Regions from separate parts of the Homo sapiens genome. Here region 2 is linked to region 1. The links come from fine-mapping of genetic effects on gene expression. Tissue or cell type: ileum. Region 1 holds a variant in brackets; the other region holds the start of a gene. All regions are shown on one strand. Distances are between the middles of the regions.

Region 1 (8,110 bases):
TGTCAATTGTGCCTTTGACTATGGCTGCCCTAAAACCTTTTGTCATCCACAGACAATTTTTGTCTCATTTAAATCCTCCTTAGCAGGTGATTTTATAATCAACTACAGAACTTAAACAGGTGTTCTTGAATGCAGGTTTATGACAACTTTGGAGATTGTAACATTAGAATAAAGGAAAAAACTTTTAGCACTCTCATGGAGAGCTGAAATGTTCATGAATATCAAGGAGAACAGGAGTTAACTTTGTGAACTGAACTAATTGAAGACTAAAGCAATCTTCTTAGCTTTGTTTTTCAGAGTCAAGAAAACTTTTAAGCTATTTGCAGATTTTATCAATTGAGTAAAGTATACTCATATGAACAAAATTTGGAGCATATTTGTTTCTCTCTACCTGATTTCTCTAGAATTTGGAAACTATTTGTGAGAATTCTTAATTTATGACAATACAATTATTATCACAAGTGCAATAAGAATCTGTTTTCATTTGTAACAGGACACAAATTGGAGAAACTGGTTATTTTCCCAAGGCTTTGACTGGAATGGTGTACTTTCCTTTAAGGAATCAAACTTGACTTATGGAGCCAAAAAAAGCCCCTTGGAAAAACTGTCCTCATATCTTTTTCTGCACAGCCCCTGTTCAGGGTTCCTGATCTGTGATGAGTAAAGAATATCACTTTCTGACAGTCCCAGGAGCCCCAAGTATATCTTGGAACCTCAAGTGAGGAGGATCACCCAACTCATAGGTATTTGATGACACAAATCCATGGCTGAGCTCAGCTTTAAAAAAAGTCTTATCTGAAGTTCCTTCTATGGAACAAAGTTCCATCAAAGCCAATTTAAAAGCCTATATAAAAATAATTATTCTTGCCATACTGTATACAAATAATTAGGCCAAGTATAATAAAGCAAACCAGTCTTACCATGATTTTTGTCTTTAGCAAATATGAGAAAGTGGAGACAGAAAAATTATGTTTTAAAAACTATAGTATACCTGTTGTTAGATTCTAGTCTTGCCTAATATTTTTCCATTGTTATTATTTTCTACATTTTGGACTGAATTCTAATTTTTCTTTGCTACAAGTTTTCAAAATAATGTTCAATTTTTTTCCTTCTTTTTAAAATTTTTATTTATTTAATTAATTATTTATTTTGAGATGGAGTCTCACTCTGTCACCCAGGCTGGAGTGCAGTGGCACGATCTCAGCTCACTGCAAGCTCCACCTTCCGGGTTCATGCCATTCTCCTGCCTCAGCCTCCTGAGTAGCTGGGACTGCAGGTGCCTGCCACCAAGCCTGGTTAATTTTTTTTTATATTTTTAGTAGAGACGGGGTTTCACCGTGTTAGCCAGGATGGTCTTGATCTCCTGACGTCGTGATCTGCCCGTCTCGGCCTCCCAAAGTGCTGGGATTAGAGGCGTGACCCACCGCACCCGGCCTCCTTCTTTTTTCTTGTATTTTTCCTAATTTGGAGTCACAGAAAACTAAGCTGTGACTTTGTAAAGCCCTGCAAACTGAAGCTAGATAACTTAATCTTCAGAAGAAAATAATAGCAACCTATTTATATAAATAAGCCACTTTCATACCTTCCTACTGATATATGGACTTCAGAGTAATGTGGCCTATAGTGATTTTCCAGGATTGTTCTTTTGCTTGTTGTTGTTGTTTTTTTTCCCTTTCTCCACATATTTTCTCTTCATAGGACAAGAGACTTCACAACCTTCTAAAAATGAGCCTTCCTAATAATGTAGGACTTACCTGTCTAGGAATAAACCATCTTAGCCATGAGAGATGAGACAAAACCTGGGACCAGAGAGTCATTTTCTTCTAAAATAATTTATCCAAAAGATTTTTAAAAAGAAAAGGGAGGAAATGTGAAAGGAAAACATCTTGGGCCCCCAAAATCACTAATCTAAAGGAAAAAGTCAAGCTGGGAACTCCTGAGGGCCAACCTGTTTCTCATTCTATTCAAAGTCAACCCTCTGCTCAATGAGATAAATGCATATCTATTTGCTTCCTTTGGAGAGGTTAATCAGAAACTCAGAAGAATGCAACCATTTGTCTCTTATCTACCTATGACCTGCAAGCCCCCTCCCACTTTGTGTTGTCTCACCTTTGCTTCAAGTTGTCCCGCCTTTCCAGACCGAACCTATGTTCATCTTACATATGTTGATTATTGATGTCTCATGTCTCCCTAAAATGTATAAAACCGAACTATGCTCTGACTACCTTGGGCACATGTTGTCATGGCCTACTGAGGCTGTGTCATCGGCATGTGTCCTCAACCTTGGCAAAATAAACATTCTAAATTAACTGAGACATGTCTCAAAGTTTCAGGGTCAAAATGGCTGCTAAGAAAGAATTTGAGGGACTAGTGGGGATCAAAGAGGTACTAATACTTATTAAATATCTACTATAACAACATTATCATCAAACAACCATTTTTTCAGCATGTCCTATATACTAGAAACTCTTTATTTTATTGCATTTGATCATTACAATATTATATATTATACATACAATAAATAAGCCAATTCCAAATTGGCATAATTACCCCATTCCACAGATGAGGAAACTGAGGCTCAGAGAGTTGAAGGGTCTTACTATGGATCACATAGCTAGCAAGAGAGAGAACTAAAACTTGAACCTAGTCTCTGAGCCTCAACTCGTCATCCCTTACAGTGTACCACATCCTGAGTTAGATGTGACAGTATATCACTTTATAGGCCACTGTTTAGGTTATTGTATGTTGTATTGCCACTCCCTTTTGGAAATGTCATATAAGTAAGGAAAGTTTCTGTGAAAAGTGGTTCTGATCTACGCAATTTACTGAAGCTTTCCCACTGGCTCTCCACACCAAGCCACCAATATGCCTGCCAATGCTTTCTTAATCTTTCCTAAAGAGCCACCTCAAAAATCTTTCTACCTTGGAGAAAGTTTCTAAAAGATTAAAGAAGAAAAGCATAAAATGTTGGGAACTACAGAAGACAGCAGGTTCCTTGTCTTCTTTCTCTGTAACAGGGACGGGCCAACTTGGGGCTGGCAGAACAGAGACATGCCAAAGTTATAAAAAAAAAAAAATAAGGAGAAAAGTTGATTCCTAAATGTTCTACTAGGGCTTGGCCATCAGAAAACTAAAAGAGAAGCAAGTTCAGCTGAACATACTGCTTTCTGCATAGAAAATACTCAGCTTATTTCTTTAGTTTATTGAGGATTTTTTGCCAAATATTGTGTAGTTATTGTGTTCAGTGGTTTTATCCTAATCCAAGTAAAATAAAATAAATAAAAGAGAAATGTTGTCAGTTTTTGGTATTTCCAGATAAAAGTAATTCCTTTCCTGCTAACTTCTTTCCCTTGCCCACTTCTGTTCCACCCAAAGGGACACCAGGAGGTACTATTTGATATAGTATTTGGGCCACAGAACTTGCCATAACTGACTGGGCCAGGAGTGGGCACCTGGCTGCTGCATTTAGGTGTAGTGGTGTAGTCACTGATGAATTTGGAGTTGTGACTAAGAAAGTTAAGTATCTATCTGAGTGAGTCATTTGAATGGCAGAAATGCAAAAATTTAGAGCTGTAATTCAAGAGCCTATCTGCACAAATGGCCAATAAGCACATAAAAAATGTTCAATATTATGAGTCATTAGGGAAATGCAAACCAAAACCACAATGAAATATCATTTTACATTTACTAGAATGGCTATAATTCTTTTAAAGGGGATAAATAACAGTTATTGACAAGGATGTGGAGTGAAAAGGGAACGCTTGTGCTTTGCTGGAAGGAAAGAAAGAGTGCAACCACTGTGGAAAACAGTTTGGCAGTTCCTCCAAAAGCTAAACATAGAACTACCATGTAATTCAGCAGCTTCACTCCTAGACATATACCTCAAAGAACTGAAAGTAAGGCCTCAAACATATTTGTATACTCACATTCATAGCAACGTTATTCACAATAGCCAAAGGTGAAAACAACACAAATGTCCATCAACAGATGAATGGAAAAACAAAATATGGTGTATATATACAGTAGAATATTATTCAGCCACAAAAAAGCTAAATTTTGATATATGCTACAATATTAATGGACCTTGATGACGTTATGCTAAGTGTAATAAGTCAGATACAAAATGATATATACATATTGTATGAATCCACTTTTGTGACATGCCCAAAGTAGAGAAATTCATGGAGACCATAGAATAGAGGTTACCAGGATCTGGGAGGGAGGGGAGTATGAGGAGTTGTTTAATGGGTACAGAGTTCATGCTGGAGATGATGAAAAAGTTTTAGGTGTACGTAATAGTGACGGAAACAGCTGCCCATCTAGAGCCGCCGCTATCAAGACACAGGATACCGCGGAGAGGCTCTGGCCAGAGCTATAACGCTCCACGGAGCCGGCAGGAGCCCCGCCCTCCCTGGGTGCCCCTGCAGCCGCCCTGCCACGGCTCTCGGCTCTCGGGATCACGCGTCTCTGTGTTCTTGGGGGCCCAGGAAGACCCCTCTGCCTCCCACAGGCTCGGAAGTGCCTGCTCCCACTGCGTGGCTTCTCTCCGCTGTCAGCGCCCGTTCCCATTTCGGAGGCATCCCGGGGGCTGCAAGCTACAGGGAGCCAGGGGAGCAGGGGACAAGCGGGAGCCCTGCCTCTTGCGTATTGGCAGGGCGAGAGCTCCCAGAGGTGCAGCTGCAACCGCCCTCCCAGGCTCAGGACCTGGGCGGCTCTGCAGTCTGCGCCTCTGAAACAATGAGAATGGTTATATAATATTGTGGATATATTTAATACCGCTGCATTGTACTTACCGTGGTTAGAATAATAAATATTATGTTATATATATTTTACCA[CTG/C]TGTGTGTGTGTGTGTGTGTGTGTGTGTGTGTGTGTGTGTGTGTGTACTTTTTAAGCCTGTCTGTCCAGAGAAAACAAGCATGGAGAAAAAGTGGTCCCAGAGCCCCTGGTAGTTTTCCATTTCCAGGGTCTATCCTTTTTCCTGGGGGTCAATCTATATTCTTGTATTTGAGAATCCATATCTTTATATTTTTAATTTATATTCAAATAAATAAAACACTTTGTTCATGCTCAGAGTAACTCAAGTTGATCATTGCTACTTGAACCCAATCTTAACTAACCAACTTTGGTAAATTTTTAGCAACAAGTTACTTTTTTGGCAACTGTCATCTTCTCTTAATAAAGCTAGAGTCCAGAGGCTGGCCAAGTGCAGCACAAAGCAACGTTCACACTTCACTTACCTTGTGTTGCCTAGAGGAGCAAAGTTTGAATCATCTTCTAGGCTTAGCTTTAGGTAGGATTGTGGACATTAGAATGATCCCACAATAGCAGAAATATTTCTATGAAATACTCTATCTCTGGGTTCAATATTTGGTGTGAGCACCCCTTGTGTGAAGTCATCCAGCCAACAAAAATCCAGCCAGAGGCATTGAGGTGAGGACTTGAAAGTTGTGCAAGAGTTTCTAGAGCTAATGTTATCTCTAGGATCAATCAGAATTGATTAGTAAAAGGGGTATAAAGTATGTTGGCTGACTCCCTGGGTCTTTTTATTAGAAATTGGGAGGATTCTGGTACAAAATTACATGATGGATCATAGTCAACAAGAGAATGTTGTTGTCCAGAGTCTGATATTGCTAAAATGCAATTATTCATAATTTAATTTGCTAATGTTTATTAAGCCTTAGCCTTCTGTCACTAGTTATATCTCAGAAGTTGAGTACTATCTTGGAAGCCATGCTGAGTTCACTTCCTGAATTGGCCACTTATTCATTAGATGGCCTTGGAGGAGGGATGTAAATGCTCTCTAGTGTGGTTTTCTCTTCTGTAATGACAATGCCTGCTTACCTCTTGGGATAGTTGTGAGTACTAAAGGTGTTAAAATGTGTGAAACACTTGGAATGCTGCCTGGAATCTAAGTGCTATCTAAAATGTAAGGTCTTATCATTGTGTGAACATTTCTCACTCACTTTATTGCATCTCTGTGATTACTTCGATACTATCTTGAGTCAGCACTTTCTACTTTAAGTTATACAGCCAAGGTGTGTCATGGCTGCTGGAAGGTTTGATCATAAGGACCAAGTCCTAAAATGTAAATTAGGATAGGAAAAGTGGAGTCTGGAGAGAAGCCAAGTCCTTAAGTTCCTGGCTCACTGTAAAGGCAGAGTGCCTGGGAGCTTCTCTCTTTTCAGAGAATGACAGGGATTTTCAGACTGTGGTCCCCTGTTGTGGGTTGACTGTATCATCTCTACCAGCCTTGGTAGGCACCTATCTTCAAGCAAAAAGGATATTTTGAAGATGAAGATGTTGATTCTATTTTGCCTAAATTTAACTAAACCTTTTATCTATGGTGTCTTCGCCCCCAAATCCCTTCTATGAATGTGCTCTGATTACTTTTTCTTTTTTCTTTTTTTTGAGACGAGGTCTTGCTCTGTTGCCAGGCTGGACTACAGTGGCACAGTCTTGGCTCACTGCAACCTCCGACTCCCTGGTTCAAGCGACTCCCCTGCCTCAGCCTCCTGAGTAGCTGAGACTACAGGCACCTGCCACCACACCTGGCTAATTTTTGTATTTTTAGTAGAGACTGGGTTTTACCCTGTTGGCCAGGTTGGTCTCCATCTCGGGACCTCGCGATCTGCCAGCCTTGGCCTCCCAATGTGCTGGGATTACAGGTGTGAGCCACCGTGCTCGGCCAACTACCAATTTTTTTAAATGATCTTTACCCTTAAGTCATAGCTGATAGGATTTGAGATAGATAAGGTGTCAAGCTAGAGTAAGTTCAGTTTTCCATCAACATGGACCTGGAATATAGAAATCATGACCAGACTTGGACTGAGAACACTTAAATTCTGAAAGTATGAGGTAACTTTGCTCAGGAAAAAACATACACTTGTACACATAAGGGGTGGCCGAATAATGCCTCTCCAAAAATATTAAGGTCCTAATCCCTAGAAGCTTTGAGTGTTATATGGCAAAAGAGATTTCACAAGTGTGATTAAATTAACAATCTTGAGATGGGGAGATTATCCTGGATTATCCAGGTTGGTCCTATGTATATGCAAGTGTCCTTCTAAGAGGGAGGCAGAGGGAGATTTGAGTGTAGAAGAGAAGAAAGTGATGCGATGATGATCAAAGTAGAGAGATAAAAGATGATGTGATACAGAGACACAAGCTAAGGAGTGAGGACAGCCTGTATGATCTGGAAAAGGCAAGGGAGTTGATTTACCCGTATAACCTCCAGAAGGAACTGTACCTGCCAACATGTTGGGTTTAGCCTCATAAATCCTATTCTGAACTTCTGATTGCCATAAATATAAGATAACAAATTGTGTTGCTTTAAGTCATAATATTTATCATAATTTGTTATAATGGCAAAACTAATACATCATAGACATAAAAATTATCTTGAAAATTTAAAGTTAAGCTTTAAATTTGCAACTCAACCTAGCAACCCCTTGTGATAAAAAGCAAGTAAGAAAACCAAATTTTCACTCATGGCCACAAAATTTAATTTAGCGGAGCATCTCAAAGCTCCTCAGAGGGTACTCCGAATAAAAAGCAATGATGCTGAGGGCTTTTTAAAAGTCCTTGGGATAACTTTTTAGAAGGAAGGGAAGAATACCAGAGGAGACACTTTTAAAAGCAGACTTTTTATTTTAACAAGAAAGTCATAAAAGTGAATTTTTTCATGAAAGAAATAGTCTTCATTTAAGAAAGTGTTGCCGTTAAAGGGTTATCTTGGCACTAATGATTGGCTTTGGGTGATTTTAATTCTGAGATGTCTGTCATAAAGGAAATTATGAGACCATAAAATTGAGCTTCTAATTTTCTGTAAGAATACAGAGGAGAAGGAAGGTAAAACTGTTAAGGGTGAGCTTAAGTAATACACAGATCCTAGATAATCAGTTGCATTTTGTGCTAATGTAGATCACAATGCTTGTGTTTGAATTAATGTTTTTTTACTGATAAGAAAGATTTGAAATGGACAGTGGAATCAATCAACAATATTTCTTGGGGGTGCATTTCCACTGATGCCAGCCACAAGGACAAATCTTAAACCCCAAATTGTTCAGTGCCTGTAGGCTTTTCTCATTATTATCTGCCACATGGAAATAA
Region 2 (8,110 bases), 390 kb before region 1:
CAGTGAAAAAGTTTTATTCCTAGAGTGTTTGTCAAAGCGTTGAACAGCAATTGTTTAACATTGCAATTGCCTGAAAATGTAAATATCAGTTGGAGCATACAATAATCTAACCAAACTCTTAAAAAAAATTGATGACGGCTTTAGAAATCCATAGAGGGCTTTGAAAAGCTCCCATACATTCCTGGGGATTACAAAAATCATGCATATGGGCAAGGCCTTATGTATGCACAGGAAAGACCTGAGAGGACCTAATGTTTCATTTGTGGCTGAACTTGAGGCTCTGCACAGAGGACGTGAAGATTAAAGGCAGAATTTAAACTGCTGGAGCGCTGAAAACGTGCTCCAACACACACATGCAAAGCCCATGCATAAGGCTTCAGAGAATTAGCAATTTAAAGCACTTAAAAAACTTTACCCAATTGTTAGTTGACCACTAACCTAACTGAGTAGAAATTTCAGTGGCCACACACAACAAGAAATGCAGAATTAACATAAGTAACTCAGGAAAATCACTAAACAAACAAAAGTACCACCAACAAAAACAAAGCCTAGATGGGAGGAGAGATCTGATTTTTAGAATATGCTATTTTTTATTATTTAAAATGTCCAGATTTTAACAACAAAAAAAGTGTCACTTAAAGAATGAAGAAAGTATGGCCAATTCATATGTTTAAGAAAACAGTCAATAGAAACTGTCCATGAGGAAGCCCAAATATTGGGCTTGGTAGACAAAGATTAATATGAGGTGGAAAAAATTATCTTATTGTGAATTCTTTATAATTAAAATATGAATCCTATAGAGGCCTTTGCCTTCCCTACAGTCTTTTTAAAGGCACTCTTAACCTCTTTGTTCCTCAGGCTGTAGACCAGTGGATTCAACATGGGAATGACTATGGCATAGAACACAGATGCCATTTTGTCTGTGCCCATGAAATGGCTGGAGTTAGGTCGTAAGTACATAAAGATTCCTGTCCCATAAAAGATGGAAACTGCAGTAAGGTGGGAAGCACAAGTAGAAAAGGCCTTCTGGCGTCCTTCAGGTGAGCGCATCTTCATGATGGTGATAAATATAAATAAGTAGGAGATCAAGATTACCAGGATAGAAAAGAGGTCATTGAATCCCACCACAAAAAAAATAACCATCTCACTGATGTAGTTGTCTGAACATGAGAGAGTCAAGAGAGGAGGAGCATCACAGAAAAAGTGTTCAACTACATTGGATCTACAGAAGGAGAGCCTGAAAGTGTTCCCAGTATGAATGGATGCATTCAGGAAACCACAGATGTAGGAGCCTATGGCCAGGCAAGCACATACATTTGTTGTCATGGTGGTGGTGTAATGCAGGGGTTTACACAATGCTGCATAGCGGTCATAGGCCATTGATGCCAGGAGGAAACTTTCTGCAGTGATAAAGGCTACAAAGAAGAAGAATTGTGTGGCACAAGCATTATATAATATGAATTTGTCTCCTGTGAGAAACCCCACCATCACCTTGGGAGTGACAGCTGAGGAATAACCAAAGTCCACCAGGGAGAGGTTACTGAGGAAGAAGTACATGGGGGTGTGGAGACAGGAGTCCAGTAGAATCAATTCAATCATCCCCAGGTTCCCAACCAGAGTGATGAGGTAGATGAAAAGGAAGACTATGAAGAGTGGGATCTGCAGTTCTGGGTCATCAGTTAACCCCACAAGGATGAATTCAGTCACCTCTGTGTTGTTCTCCATTGGGAATTATGTAGCTGCCCTGTAGAAATGAAAAGGCAGAATCAGAATGATAAATGGAGGGAGGACTACTGAGATCAATCAGCATGCCATTTTTTTGCTTTATTCCAGTATTGTAATTACTTGTTTCCAGGAGTCCCGGATCTAAAACATGCCCATGACCGCAAAATGCAACTTTAAATTACAATAATTCATAGAGCATTCTTAATAAAATGATTTTGGAGATAATTCATCCCGAACTCCTAATTTCATAGATTACCGAACTAAGGTACAGAAAAGGAAGATTCATACAAGATCATCAGACTAATTAATTGGAACAGGTGAAATATAAAACCAAGTCACTTTGAATTAAAGCCTTAACTCTTTATCACAAAGAAAAATTCCTTTAAATCTTTTACATTCAGTCTAAACTGGGCACAAGACAGTAATTTATTTAATTGACTGACTGCCTGATGGAGTAATTAAATCTATCATTGTAAGTCAATGTGAAGAATGGAATAGCATGAAATTAGGAATCAAATATACTTACCAGTTTTCTTGGCTTCATGCAAATAACCTACATTTCTGGATCTCAGTTAAATGATAATAACTGGATCCACAAATGTTTATAACTACTTCCAACCCTTAAAAAAATCTTCAAAAAGTTAAAAAGGAACATGACTCTTCAGTAATACCAACCAATTGACCAATCAACATAAATCTCTGGATGTGTTCATTTCTTTATTCTCTCTACAAGCTCTAATTTCGAATGGAGCACCATGTTTCATGCTAATTGCCAGGTTTACATTAATGCAAGAGATACATTTCCTGACCAGATAGATATCTAAACTGATAAATATTATGTTTAAGTTCAGAATATTCTTATTCTCCATTCCCAAGGAGACAGAAGTGTTTTCTTATTTGCTCAGAACTGTGTGATAGATGTTAATCACATCTACACTGTAGACCATCAGTCGGTCCACAATATAGTTTATAAATTGTGTGTCCAATGACCAGATGTTTTTAGTGACAGAATTAGCACATGAGATTAGGTCTCCTCATTCCAATAGTTAGTTGTGCCTTATGTAATTTTGCACATCTCTATTTCAGTGCATTTTATAACTGGCTTGTAAGCCTGATTTCTTCCTCATTTATTAATCACCATTCCTTCTGTCTCTCTTTTTAAAAAAATATTAGTATGGGCTTCCAGATTATGGTAAAATTTTATGTTGATATTCCATTTGACTATCTCAACAATTGTAGAATTAGGAGAACTAATATTATCATATTTCCTGAAAAAGAAAACTGAGAAATAAATAGTTTAACTTGCTCAAAGTAATGCAATCTTATTCTTTGTAAAGCAGGGACTCGAGGCCTTCTTGTGCTTTTTCTTTATGTCACATGATAAGTAAACACATTCTACACAAGTTGGGAATCCCTAATCCAAAAATCCAAAGTCTAAAATGCTTCCAAATCCAAAACTATTTGAGAACCAACATGATGCTACAAATGGAAAATTCCACACATAAGTATGTAGCACATACTTTGTTTCATGTGCAAAAATTATTTAAAATATTATGTAAAATTACTTAGGCTATGGATATAACGTGTATATAAAACATAAATGAATTTTGTGTTTAAATTTGGGTTTCATCCCCAATATATCTCATAAACATGCAAATATTCAAAAATTCTAAAAAATCCAAAATCCAAAACACTTCTGTTCCCAAATATTTTAGATGAGGAATACTCAACATATATAGCCTCTGGATGTGTGAAACAGATAAAAGAAATAGTCAAAATATTAGAGCCAAATCCCTGATTAAACCAAAGGAGAAAGGGGTACCTCGATGCATTTTTCTAGTTACCTCTGCCCCTGTAACTTTGTGCAGACAATAGATTTGATCCAGAGACTTACCTTTCTCCCTGAGAAATACAAAATTCAGGTCCAGCACTTTCATATATAAGTGAATGTCACATCAGAAATTAAGTCCTTTAAAGAAGGAAAACAACTTTTTGGAGACTGTTCTTTAGCGTTTGGCCAAAAGGCTTAAAGTTCTTTAGAGGCAGGGGGAAATTGAAAGAAAAATGCTATTGGCTTTGGAATCAGCTAGCAAGAGCTCTACTCCTGTATTTACTGCCCCTTCTTTGTAGATAAGTCTCTTAACCCATTTGAATATCAATAGCTGAATCTATAAAAAAGAAAATATTAAAAGATAGCCCTAACAACATCCAGCCTGAAAACTGCTGCTATGGTAAGAAAAGAATAGGAAACCTACAATTTCTTATACTTGGTAAGAGGTGATAATCATAACCTCAATTAATATAATAATTACTGGTTTTTTTCCTAAACATTGTTGTAGGCTCTTTGCTATGTATCAGTTTTGGAGAAGGCCATAGTTACTACTAGATGACTATTGACAATCAGACGAATAAATAAATGGTCAAAGTGACTCTGGTTCTGGGGCTGCTCCCTCTAATATGAAGCCAAATGGAATCATATAGGTACTTGATCAGTTGAAAAGTGGGAACCAGGAGGTAATTGTATGGTCATGGAGCTCTCAGGCGACACATACTCTATGAGGTCTACAAAACACTTTATCTCACATAACTGGAAATCAGGTGATTAAAGTATCTATGGGGATTCAGCTCTGCTTGTTGTGGGAGATCATGAGTGTATTTATGTTACTTTCAGTTATTCTCTTGGGTAATGCACAAATTAAGCCACAGCATGTCCTTCAAGACTGTTATTTGACATAAATACTAAGAGACAGAGACATACATTTTATCATTAAATAAGGGATGTGGACTTCAGGGATTAGTACTTCTTTTAATTCACCTTAAATGTTTGAACCATTGAGAAGAAATATTAATTCATCAACTGTTTATTGATTGCAAATGGATTTTAGCCATAGTAATGAGAGCTGAGAACATAGACCCATTCAAAATAAACATCATTCTTGTGCCCATGGTGTTTAAATCTAATGGAGAAGATAGACAGTAAGCAAATAAACCCCGTAAGAAACATGCGTAAATATGCATATTTACACATATAAATACATATGTACATATATATAATTATGTGTGGAATAAGCATGTAACTATACATAAAAATGAGATAAAAAATAAGTCTACTTTATATTGTTTGGTCAGAATGTTTTCTCTGGAAAATTAAGATTTCAGCCAAGTTTGGCCAGGCGCGGTGGCTCAAGCCTGTTATCCCAGCACTTTGGGAGGCCGAGGCAGGCGGATCACGAGGTCAGGAGATCAAGACCATCCTGGCTAACACGGTGAAACCCCGTCTATACTAAAAAATACAAAAAAATAGCCGGGCGTGGTAGCGGGCGCCTGTAGTCCCAGCTACTCGGGAGGCTGAGGCAGGAGAATGGCGTGAACCCGGGAGACGGAGCTTGCAGCGATCCGAGATCGCACCACTGCACTCCAGCCTGGGGGACAGGGGGATAGAGCGAGACTCCGTCTCAAAAAAAAAAAAAAGATTTCAGCCAAGTTTAAAAATGACAAAGAACTAGTATGGAAAAGATCATTCCAAACAAAATGAAATGTATGTAGTAAAGGACCCAAGTTTCAAAACAGTTAACAAAATCTAAAAGAAGCCAGTATGTTTTCTTCATAACTAGACCTCTTCCTTGTCAATTTCTATTTCAGCATCCTCCACCAAAGAAACCTTGACAAACAAAACAAACAGAGTGACACATAAACAAGATGGCAGAATAGGAGATACAATCCTCTTCCCCTCACACAAAAAATCAACCGATAATTATCCATGAATGATAATAGCCTTAGTAGGACTCAAGGGACCATTTAAAAACCTGTAGCAACATAGTGAAATAAAAAATGTGGGAGGGGAATAACCACATAGAAAAGACTGTTGGAGATATGTATTAACCGACATGTCTAGAGATGTCTAGGAACAAAGAAAAGCAAGTTCTAGCATTATCAACCATGTTATGAATGCCACCATTGTTCCCAGCAACCTGCTCTACAGAGAACACTGCCATCTTTCACTACCAAGATAATCAACAGCCATCCCCACCGTGGAGCCCCCAGAAAAGGAAACACTGCTGGACCAATGCTCCCAGAAGGGGCAACTGCTTTGTTGCCCCATGGCCAAAGCCACCATTCCTTCCAATTTTGCACATGCCTCAAACACTGGAGCCACTACTGTTATAGGTTAGCCACACCCCACACCTTAGAGCCCCAGTTGCTGTGTGTGCATACTCACTTCATGCACCAACTCCACTACAATATTGAGCAGCTTGAGGCCCAGAGCCCAGAGTCACGGTAGCTCTGAGCAAACCTACACTCTGGACCCTAGAGCCACTGTATCTCTGCACATGCCTGGACTTTGGCCCCCAGCTTCTCAGCTGCTTTACAAGCATCTGTGCCCCACACACAGTTATCAATGCAGCAGTGGGGCATCTACACCCAAGGCATTCATGTCATCGACACTTCAGACTCCAGAGTGATTATGCCTCTGTGCATGTCCATGCTTCAGATCTTGACTCCAGGACTGTTGCACAAGCACCATGCATCTGATATCAGTGTCACCACAACTACAGGTGTACCCACTGGACACTGTGCCAAAAGTGATCTCCTCAGCCATGATTTCCCTGTGGAATAAAAAGAGATTGAGAAAACCTCAGTGGCCTTCACCACTGAAGACCCCATTAGCTCTTACTGCTGCTATTGATACCCACAGTCTTGGCTTCTAAAATCCCTGCAATCTTCACCAATGCCAACCTAAGTTGACAGAGCAGCACAAAGACTATGCCACTGCACCCTTGCCAGAGCCCAAACCGCCAAATCTCTCCCAGTCAGTGCCATAGCACTCTCCCTTAAGGGAAAGCCTTTTCCCAGTGAAACCAGCACATAAAGTCAGGAAGAGGTGACTGTTCTACCAAATGTGCAGACATCAATGAAGGATAACAGGATATATGAAAAAACAAGGAAATATGTTACCACCAAAAGAATAATATCAGCCAGGCATAGTGGCTCTTGCCTGTAATCCCAGCCCTTTGGGAGGCCAAGGCAGGAGAAATGTTTGAGTTCAGGAGGTGAAGACCAGCCTGGGCAACAGAGCAAGACCCTGTCTCTACTAAAGATAAAGAAATTAGGTGGGCATAGTGGCATATATCTGTAGTCCCAGATACCAGGGAGCCTAAGGCAGGAAAATCACTTGAGCCCAGGAGTTTGAGACTGCAGTGAGCCATGATTGTGTCACTGCACTCCAGCCTTGGGGACAGAGCAAAACCTTGTCTCAAATAATAGTAGTAATAATAATTTCCAGTAACAAGCCCCAAAGAAATGGAGATCTACAAACTGCCTGACAAAGAATTCAAAATAGTTGTCTTAAGGAGGCTCAGCAAACTAAAAGAGAACACAGAGAGACAACAAATTGAAACCAGTAAAACAATATATGAGCAAAACAAGAAGTTTAACAAAGAGATTAAGAATTTAAAAACTCCATAAAGCCTGGAGTGGAAGAATACAATGCATAAAATACCAAATGCAGGTCATCAGCAGAATTGATCAAACAGAAGAAAGAATTTGTAAACTTGAAGATAGATTATTTGAAAAAATAAAATCAGAGAAGAAAAAAGTAAAAAGGATAAAAAGAAATGAAGAAAGCCTATGGAGATCATCATGGCAGAGGGGAGGCAGGACTAGATTATAATTCTGGACAGAGCAGTGTGTGGAGGCTCACATTCTGAATTTAAGCTCCAGATCAACTTTAAGAACAAACCATCAATCTCGAGAGTACCCACAGACCCTCTGAAAGAAGTGGACTGCTCCAGCAGGACCTGGGACACACTCCAAACACCGTGACTGCCCCAACTGCAGAAGTGGGAAAGGGAGACCTCCTGTCCCGAACACACACCCCCCACTAGAGAAATTGAAGGTCTGTTTGTGGGAGAAAGTTCTGACCTTACCTGGAGCTGAGTCAATTTAGAGAGCTGAGTGAAATACAGGGGTAAAAGAAGGATCAGAAAAGTCCTAGGAGCTCGCTAGGCCCCCAAACAGCCCATTCCTGCTTGACACCACAGGGATCCTTGGAAGGGTGGCCAGAAGAGCAGGGGGTAAAACTACACAGGGAGAAGGAAATCTTTAGCTGAGCTCTGTAACAATTTGAACAGGGCAAGAAGCCTCCTGGCCAGAACTTTGGGGAGGGCGCAAATCTGGTGTGCAGATTCCACAGGCAGGGGAACAACCAAACACCTTTCTTTCGAAGATGGGAGGCAGGTAGCCTGGGGCGAGTTTTCAAGCCCGTTTCCCCCACCACCTAAAAATAGACTCAGGGCTGCTGGGGTGGGGCATGGTGGGAGTGAGACTGGTCTTTCAGTTTGTGTGGGAGCTGGGTGAGGCCTGTGACTGCCGGCTTTCCCTGACT

Which allele goes with the higher level. Positions count from the first base shown, and alleles are read on the strand shown. Sizes are in standard deviations (SD) of each study's normalised expression.
With allele C in place of CTG in region 1, the expression in ileum of the gene that starts at base 3,810 in region 2 is higher (large effect, 0.83 SD a copy in CEDAR).

The links. PIP is the estimated chance that this variant, and not a neighbour inherited with it, causes the effect.
Region 2: it holds the start of OR5B12, and the variant in region 1 is fine-mapped to the expression of OR5B12 in ileum (CEDAR, PIP 0.95).

The regions. Positions count from the first base shown.
Region 1 is chr11:58,826,437-58,834,546 of GRCh38, forward strand. GLYATL2 (glycine-N-acyltransferase like 2) reads right to left here. Exons shown (of 6, transcript NM_145016.4): 6 at 7,629-8,110. The coding sequence ends at 7,993. Among named protein-coding and RNA genes, the nearest start is that of GLYATL2, 14 kb to the right of the region's middle. The variant CTG/C (reference allele first, on the strand shown) is at 4,836.
Region 2 is chr11:58,438,427-58,446,536 of GRCh38, forward strand. It overlaps OR5B12 (olfactory receptor family 5 subfamily B member 12), which reads right to left and starts at 3,810. Exons shown (of 2, transcript NM_001004733.3): 1 at 3,620-3,810; 2 at 568-1,744. The coding sequence starts at 1,725. The coding sequence ends at 781.